2 linked regions of the Homo sapiens genome follow. The protein of the gene in region 1 interacts with the protein of each later gene in a pairwise test. Each region holds a gene or a part of one and is shown in the gene's direction. Other genes may lie near its edges. The genes, in order: MICALL2 and CDR2.

Region 1 (3,816 bases):
GTGGGAGGGCGCCTGGATCCAGCTGTGCCTGATGCCTGCGCTTTTACTTATAGGCCCTCCCCAGCCACTGCCGCTGTTCCCAGTTCTCAGCCCAAAACTGAAGCACCACAAGCAAGTCCCTTAGCCAAGCCGTTACAGTCCTCGTCTCCCCGGGTGCTTGGCCTCCCTTCGAGGATGGAACCGCCAGCCCCGCTGAGCACGAGCAGTACCTCTCAGGCATCCGCGTTGCCCCCGGCAGGCAGGAGGAACTTGGCGGAATCCTCAGGGGTCGGCAGGGTGGGTGCTGGCTCCAGGCCGAAGCCAGAGGCCCCGATGGCAAAGGGTAAAAGCACCACCTTAACGCAGGGTGAGTAAGGGGCTGGGAGGCAGGAGGCCCCGGGGGCCCGCAGCTCTGGGACTCTCCCCTGGCCGCACTCTGCAGTGTGTGCGGTTTCATCATCAGCCCCGCCCGCCTTCCTCTCCGTCTCATCTCTGTCCTCCGTGACACCTGCTCGCAGCCTCCTGGGGTCCTGGTGCGCTCTCTGTGTGGTGGCTGCAAATGTCCTCAGGGCTATGCTGTTTGCCGGCACCCAGCCCACCCCATCCGCACGTCCTGCAGGTGCCTGCAGCCCAGCCCTGCAGCGTCCCGCTCAGCTCGGTCTGGCAGTTACATCCTGTGGCTAGCAGTGGCCTGGCTTGGCCGTGGTCTGTGGGGCCTCCTGTTCTCCCGTGGTGTTTTGCGCTTCCTGCCTGTCGCTTTGACAACGTCGCGCTGTTGCTGTGGCACCCTGTGTCACCACATACCGGAGATGGTGCCCTATGCCCCGTCCCCCCTGTGGTGTCCCGGTGACGGTGCCCTATGCCCCGTCCCCTCCGCTGGTGTCCCAGTATGCCCTGTCCCCCTGGTGGTGTCCAGGTGAGAGCGCCCTGTGCTCCGTCCCCCCCGGTGGTGGTCTGGTGACGATGCCCTATGACCTGAGGGCTCTGGTGCCTCCTAGGCTGGGAGCTCTTCCTGGGGGCTCCCTGGACCACACAGTCCTGTTTTATGGCCTCACGTGTTTTCGGGAACAGGGAGCGAGCTTTCTTCTAGGCAACTGGCTGTCACCCACCAGGGGTTAGCCCCCTGGGTGATCATGGCCAGGCTGGGCAGGACGTGGGCTTAGGGCTTGTGAGGCCAACCCTGTGCCAGCTGGGAGGCCCAGGGCACTGGGATGGCCAGGCTACGCAGTGAGCTGTCAGCTGTGCCAGGACAGACCCCAGGCTCCTGGCGGCCCTGCTTTGATGCACGGCTCTGTCTCCCAACCTGGGGGCAGCCGAGTCCCCCCGCCTCGCCCCACTGCAGGAAACTGGCTGTCCCTGCCACCTGGGTGTGTGTAGAAAAAAGCTAGAGGTTCCCATGGCTTTATCGAGCTGGGCTCAGGGAACAAGCTGGGCTGCAAAGGGTTTTTCCAGATCCTTCTCTTTGGCTGAGTTCTCATTGTTAAAGCCACGCGCTGGATCCTGCAGGACCCAGGAGCCAAGAAAGCCTGCAGACGGGCAGCCGTGGCTCAGGTGTTCCCCTTGCACAGGTGGACAGAGGATCAGGGTCCACGGGGCTCACCCTGCCACGTCCCCACCCATTCGGCAGAAGGGGAAGTTGAGGCCCAGAGGCAGGGAGAGCTTCCCCCAGGGACACACAGCACAGGAGAGCCAGCTGGGAGCCCCTCCCCTGACTCCCTGCCCGGTGCTCCTGATGCCCCCCGGCCGGCTGGCTGTGGGGGTGTCTGAGGGTGGAGTGGCTATGGGAAGATGGCAGGGGGAGGCACAGCCACCCTTGCAGACACCCCATTCCCAGCACTCCTTCCTCACACCCAGACCCCTTGCCTCCCACCCAGACATGAGCACCAGCCTCCAGGAAGGCCAGGAGGACGGGCCGGCAGGATGGAGAGCGAATCTGAAGCCCGTGGACAGGAGAAGCCCAGCTGAGAGGTTAGGGATGGGTGGGGCTGGCCCAGGGCCTGGTACACCATAGGTGCTTAATAAATGCAGTGAGTATGTAATCGACCGATTGACACGCCTATCCAGGGATAGACGCACCTCCCTGTGAGTAGCAGAGGCCAGGTCACCCCTGCCTGAGGGACATGGGGGCCGCTGTCCCTGGTTTGGGGGCAGCGTTGCGTGTCTCACCTGGGCATGGCAGCACCCGTGTGGGTTCACGCACCATGCCTGCAGCTGGGGTGGAGTCTCCCCATGTGTGGGTCCCGTGGGGCCCGGAGCTCACGCCTGGAATCTGCTTCGCACCACGGCAGGTAGCGATGGACACGTGTGTTTGCAGGAGGGTCCCAGCAGGTGTAGTCAGTGGGCTGGGAGGTGGCATTTGCTCAGAAGGCCACCTGCTCCCTCCGGCTGGTCTGCATATGGCCTGGGAGCCCCTCCAGGTGGGCCAGGCCCTGGGGCTGGTGGTTCGGGTTCCGACCTCATGCCTTCTGCCCAGGACTCTGAAGCCCAAGGAACCACGGGCCCTGGCAGAGCCGAGGGCGGGGGAGGCCCCCAGGAAGGTCTCAGGCAGCTTTGCTGGGAGTGTCCACATCACCCTGACCCCCGTGAGGCCTGACAGGACCCCACGCCCAGCCAGCCCAGGACCCAGCCTCCCAGGTACTCCTGGACGGGACCCAGGGGCCCCCGGGTTGCCTAGCTGGCCCTCCCCCTTGGGTGGGGGCCCCGGGACTGGACCTGTAGTGCCACCTCCTGGGGTGTGCGGAGAGGCGCTCCGGTCAGCCAGAGAAGCTGGTAGTCCTGGGCAGGCTTGTGTGTACATGTGTGCATGTGTGTGATGCATGTGTGCATGTGTTCATGTATGTGATGCCTGTATCCATGCGTGATGCATGTGTGCGCATGTGTACATCTGTGTTCATGTGTGTGATGCATGTGCACGTGATGCATGTCCATGTGTCTGTTCATGTATGTGATGTGTGATGCATGTGTATTCATGTGTACATCAGTGTTCATGCGTGTGATGCATGTGTACATGTGTGATGCGTGTCCATGTGTCTGTGTTCGTGTATGTGATGCATGTGTGCCCACACGTGATGCATGTGTCCATGTGTACATCTGTGTTCATGTGCGATGCATGTGTGTCCATGTGTACATCTGTGTGATGCATGTGTGTGCAACCGTGTTCATGTATGTGGTGCATGTACCCATGTGTGGATCTGTTTCATGAATGTGATGCATGTGTGTCCACGTGTGCACCCGTGTTCGTGTGTGATGCGTGTGTGTGCACACACATCTCTGTGTGTATTCCTAGCACTCATAGCTGCCCTGGATCCATATCCAGCTCTCGTGCCACTTCCTGTGTGACCTTGAGCAGCCAGCAGCCCCGTGGGTTAGCCCCCTGGGGAGACATGGCCAGGTTGGGCAGGACGTGGGTGTAGGGCTTGTGATGCCAACCCTGTGCCAGTCGGGAGGCCCAGGGCATGGGGATGGCCGGGCTACCCAGCGAGCTGTTGGCTGTGCTGGGACAGACCCCAGGCTCCCAGTGGCCCTGCTCTGAAGCGTGGCTCTGTCTCCCCACCTGGGGGCAGCCAGGTCCCCCTCCCCACCCCGCCGCAGGAGACTGGCCGTCCCTGCCAGCCTCGACGTTTGTGACAACTGGCTTCGGCCGGAGCCCCCTGGCCAGGAAGCCCGAGTGCAGAGCTGGAAGGAGGAGGAGAAGAAACCTCACCTTCAGGGCAAACCAGGTCAGCCCCAGAGACACCGCTGCTGTTTGGGGTGTACGTGAAGGGAGCCTTCCTCTGAGGAGGCAATGCCTGCTGGGGCTTTGGAGGATGCATTCACAGGACCTAGAATGGAGGGAAA
Region 2 (3,816 bases), on another chromosome or scaffold:
TCTCAAAAAAAATAAATAAATAATGACAAGAAAAAGACTAATGTCTCTTAAATGCTTTGAGCTATTTGTAAAAGTTCTGTGTTTTGTAAATACAAGTTATTTCATAGATTTAATGGAAGTCTTTATTTTTTATTTTTTTATTTTTGAGACAGGGCCTCACTGTATTTTTGGTAGAGATGTAATTTCACCATGTTGCCCTGGCTGGTCTCGAACTTCTGAGCTCAAGCAGTCCATCTGGTTCACCCTCCCAAAATGCTGGGATTATAGGCATGACCCACTGCACCTGGCCTCTAAAGTCTTAATGAATGTAATGACTAATAGACATTGTTAGTTTTGAAATCACAAGAGAATGTATTTTAGCACCTATCTACCAACAGTATACTGTTTTATTTTAAATGGGTGTAAAATGTTTTTAAATGATCTGGAGTTGGGTGTGGTAGGTTTTGCTGCTTTTTCCAGAGTGAAAACTAACCAAGTAGAATACTAATTATGCACTTGAGTGGACATTACAACAACTAATGCTGTTGTTACCATTTACTCAATGCTAAGTTTTACTATGAGTAGTGGTGGATAGCCATTAAGCCTTATTTGTCAACCTCTAAAAATTAAGTTTAAAAATCATTATGTAGTGAGTTTCCTTGTTTTTATGATAAATTTTTTTCATAATACTTTTATGACAATAACTGAGGCTACTTTCCATCATACCTAGAATAAAATTTAAACTTTACCTACCATGGGCTATAAAATCCTATATGATCTGATCCCTCATGCTTCTATCATACTGGCTGCTTGTCAGGTTGTAGAATATGCCAAATTCATGGCAAGTTCTTCATCCTTCAAGCTTCAGCTAAAAGGTCTTGTCAGACCTTCCTTATGACCTCCCTTTCTAAATTGGGCCCTAGGCTGGGCACAGTGGCTCATGCCTGTAATCCCAACATTTTGGGAGGCTGATGTGGGAGGATGTGTTGAGGCCAGAAGTTTGAGATCATCCTGGGCAGCATTGTAAGACCCTGTCTCTACAATAAATCAGTAAGTAAGTAAGCTGGGTTTGGTAGTGCATGCCTGTAGTCCCAGCTGTTTGGCAGGCTGAGGCAGGAAGATCACTTGAGCCCAGGAATCCAAGGCTACAGTCAGCCATGAGTGCACCACTGCACTCCAGCATGGCAACAGAGCGAGACCGTGCCTAATAAAGAGACAGAAAAAGAAAGCCCTTTGTTCATTATCACCAAATCCAGGTTTTTCTCCCCCGCTTTATCTTTTAGACTTTATATTGAATTGGTCAACAAATCCTTTAGCTTTACTTTCAAAACATGTCAGAATTCTGCCCCTCCTCTCCCATCTTCATCTCTGCCACCCTGGTCCAAGCCACCATCATCTCTCACCCAGACGATTGCAGTATCTTTCTGTCACTCTGCTCCCACCTTTGTCCCATTCACCCTGTATAACAGCAGCCGGAGTGATCCTGTTAAACCTCCATTGGATTCCTTCATTTGGAGTAAAGGCCAAACTCTTGACCTCTTTAGTTAGGCCCTCCGCAAACTGGCCATCTTGGAGCCCCTCTGATTTGAGTCTTCCCCCTCCCCTCCCTGCCCAATACATTCTGCTCCACCCTCCTCAGCCTCCTTAATGACTCAGTCATGCTTCCTCCCAGGTGCTTTGCACTTGCCTTGCCTCTGCCTGGAGTGCTGTTTCCCTGATGGATACACATGGGTCACTTATTCTGTTCCTTCACACATTGATTCTAATGTGGCCCTGGTCACATGTTCTTAAATTTCAGCCTCCCACATCCACACTCCTCCTGTACTTCTTCCTTGCTTTATTTTTTTCTCTTTAGCATTTATCGCTATCAAGTTTTATTGTGCTGTTTCTCCCAGTAGAATATAAGCTCCATGAGGGCAGGGATATTTTTTTAATGTGAGTTCCTTATGGCTCCTGGGCACCATCCCAGTGCCTAGAATAGTGTCTGATATTATTGAGTATATGCATGCATGCATGAATACTGTTTATCACAGTATGTGAGTTTAGTTACTCATTTGTCTGGCTTCCTCCACTAATCTGGGAATGTCAGCAAAGCAGGACTTCATTTTATTCACTGTTCTATAGCTAATGCTTAGCATAGTGCCTGGCAACAAAAACATTCATTTGTGAATCAATGACTATTAATAGTACTTTGCGTGCGTATTGCAACTTAGTTTGTAAAGTACTCCTTTATGTATTATTTCATTTGATTTTCACAATCTTATATTGATAAGACAGTCATCTCTCTAAACAAGAATACTAACTATAGGGGCCTTAAAGTCACCATATTGAAAGTGTTCTGGTAAATGATAGAACTGGGCCTGAGACTTACCTGCCCAGAGTGCAGTGCATTTCCCACTGTATCAAAGGACTGCTCCATAAGATTTACTATGCAAAGAAGTATTTCAATGACGTATGTTACAACTAGTGTCCTTTCTTATATTGTTAACTAAATTTTCATTTCTGGGAGTTGAGTATAATATAAACAAATCCTGTTTTATGGGCATTATACCTAAGAATAGAGAGAGTTGAAAAATGAGGTTTAAAATAAAATATGGTTCTGTGCTAAATGGAAGTATGAGCTACTGACATGTAATTACCTCAAAAACCACATTTCTGTTTTGCTTTTCTAGTTGCTCATCTTACAGAAGGACACGAAGAGAAGTAGAGTGACCTGGGGCAGTGTTCTTAATGCTGATGTATTTTTCCTTTTCTTGACTTAATAAATTTTAGTCCCCTTAGGAGTCCAGGATATATGACAATAAACTTTAACAGTTGTATTCACAGCAGGCAAATTCATGGGAACTTTAAAGATTTTTGAAAGCTCCACCTATACCTTGGCTCAAGGGTCCATTCAAAAAAGTAGACTGTCAGGATATGAATACATTCATTGTACTAGCAAATAGGATTTTAGAAGTAACACTGCGGAATGATCATTCCTGAACAAATAACTGCATCTCCATAAAGTAGATGACCATTTTTCACTTCTTACAAGTATGGGTACATAAGAGAATACATTACCTGCTGGAGGCGTCAGTTTAACTGAATTTTAAGTAGAACTCGGGTTTCCTTCTGTGCCACTCCACCTTCCATTGGGATGTGACTTAAACTACATGTTCTTTTTTGAAGGACTGGGTTATATAAATTGTTGATGTGAGATCATTTGTATTATTCTAAGATTCATTTGTTGTGCTAGATCTTCAACTTGCTGCTGAGCTTGGGAAGACATTACTGGATCGGAACACAGAGTTGGAGGACTCTGTTCAGCAGATGTATACAACCAATCAGGAGCAGTTACAGGAAATTGAGGTAATTCACTTGGCAGGAGAGTTACACTTTTGACACTTCGATGTGTTGCTGTTATGCCAATCACATACTGGTAAAAAAGCACTTGCAATTAGATGCAGCATTTTATTTTTTAACACAAACTTTTTTGAGAATGAGAACCGCCTCCCGAGTAGCTGGGATTACAGGCGCCTGCCACCACGCCTGGCTAATTTTTGTATTTTTGGTAGAGATGGGGTTTCACTGTGTTAGCCAGGCTGGTCTCGAACTCCTGTCCTCAGATGATCCACCTGCCTTGGCCTCCCAAAGTGCTGGGATTACAGGCATGGGCCACCACACCCGGCCTAAAACATGCAATATTTAAGATATACAGAATGGGGTAAGAGAACAATACAGTGAATACCCATATATCCACCACCTAGCTTAAAAAAGAAGACTGCCCACACTCTTGAACTTCCCACCGGAGAGGGAACTTATACCTCCTCCTTGGTGACATATCCCTCCCACCTACTA

What was found.
Region 2: the proteins of MICALL2 (region 1) and CDR2 interact in binary tests that used the Homo sapiens proteins (3 or more experiments, as listed by UniProt).

Annotation. Positions count from the first base shown.
Region 1 is NC_000007.14:1,438,722-1,442,537, reverse strand, and holds part of MICALL2 (MICAL-like protein 2), read left to right. Parts: intron 1-53; coding exon 54-346; exon of another isoform or gene 347-1,375; coding exon of another isoform or gene 1,376-1,853; coding exon 1,854-1,947; intron 1,948-2,452; coding exon 2,453-2,613; intron 2,614-3,542; coding exon 3,543-3,698; exon of another isoform or gene 3,699-3,816. UniProt on the Homo sapiens protein: Effector of small Rab GTPases which is involved in junctional complexes assembly through the regulation of cell adhesion molecules transport to the plasma membrane and actin cytoskeleton reorganization.
Region 2 is NC_000016.10:22,364,413-22,368,228, reverse strand, and holds part of CDR2 (cerebellar degeneration-related protein 2), read left to right. Parts: intron 1-3,214; coding exon 3,215-3,327; intron 3,328-3,816.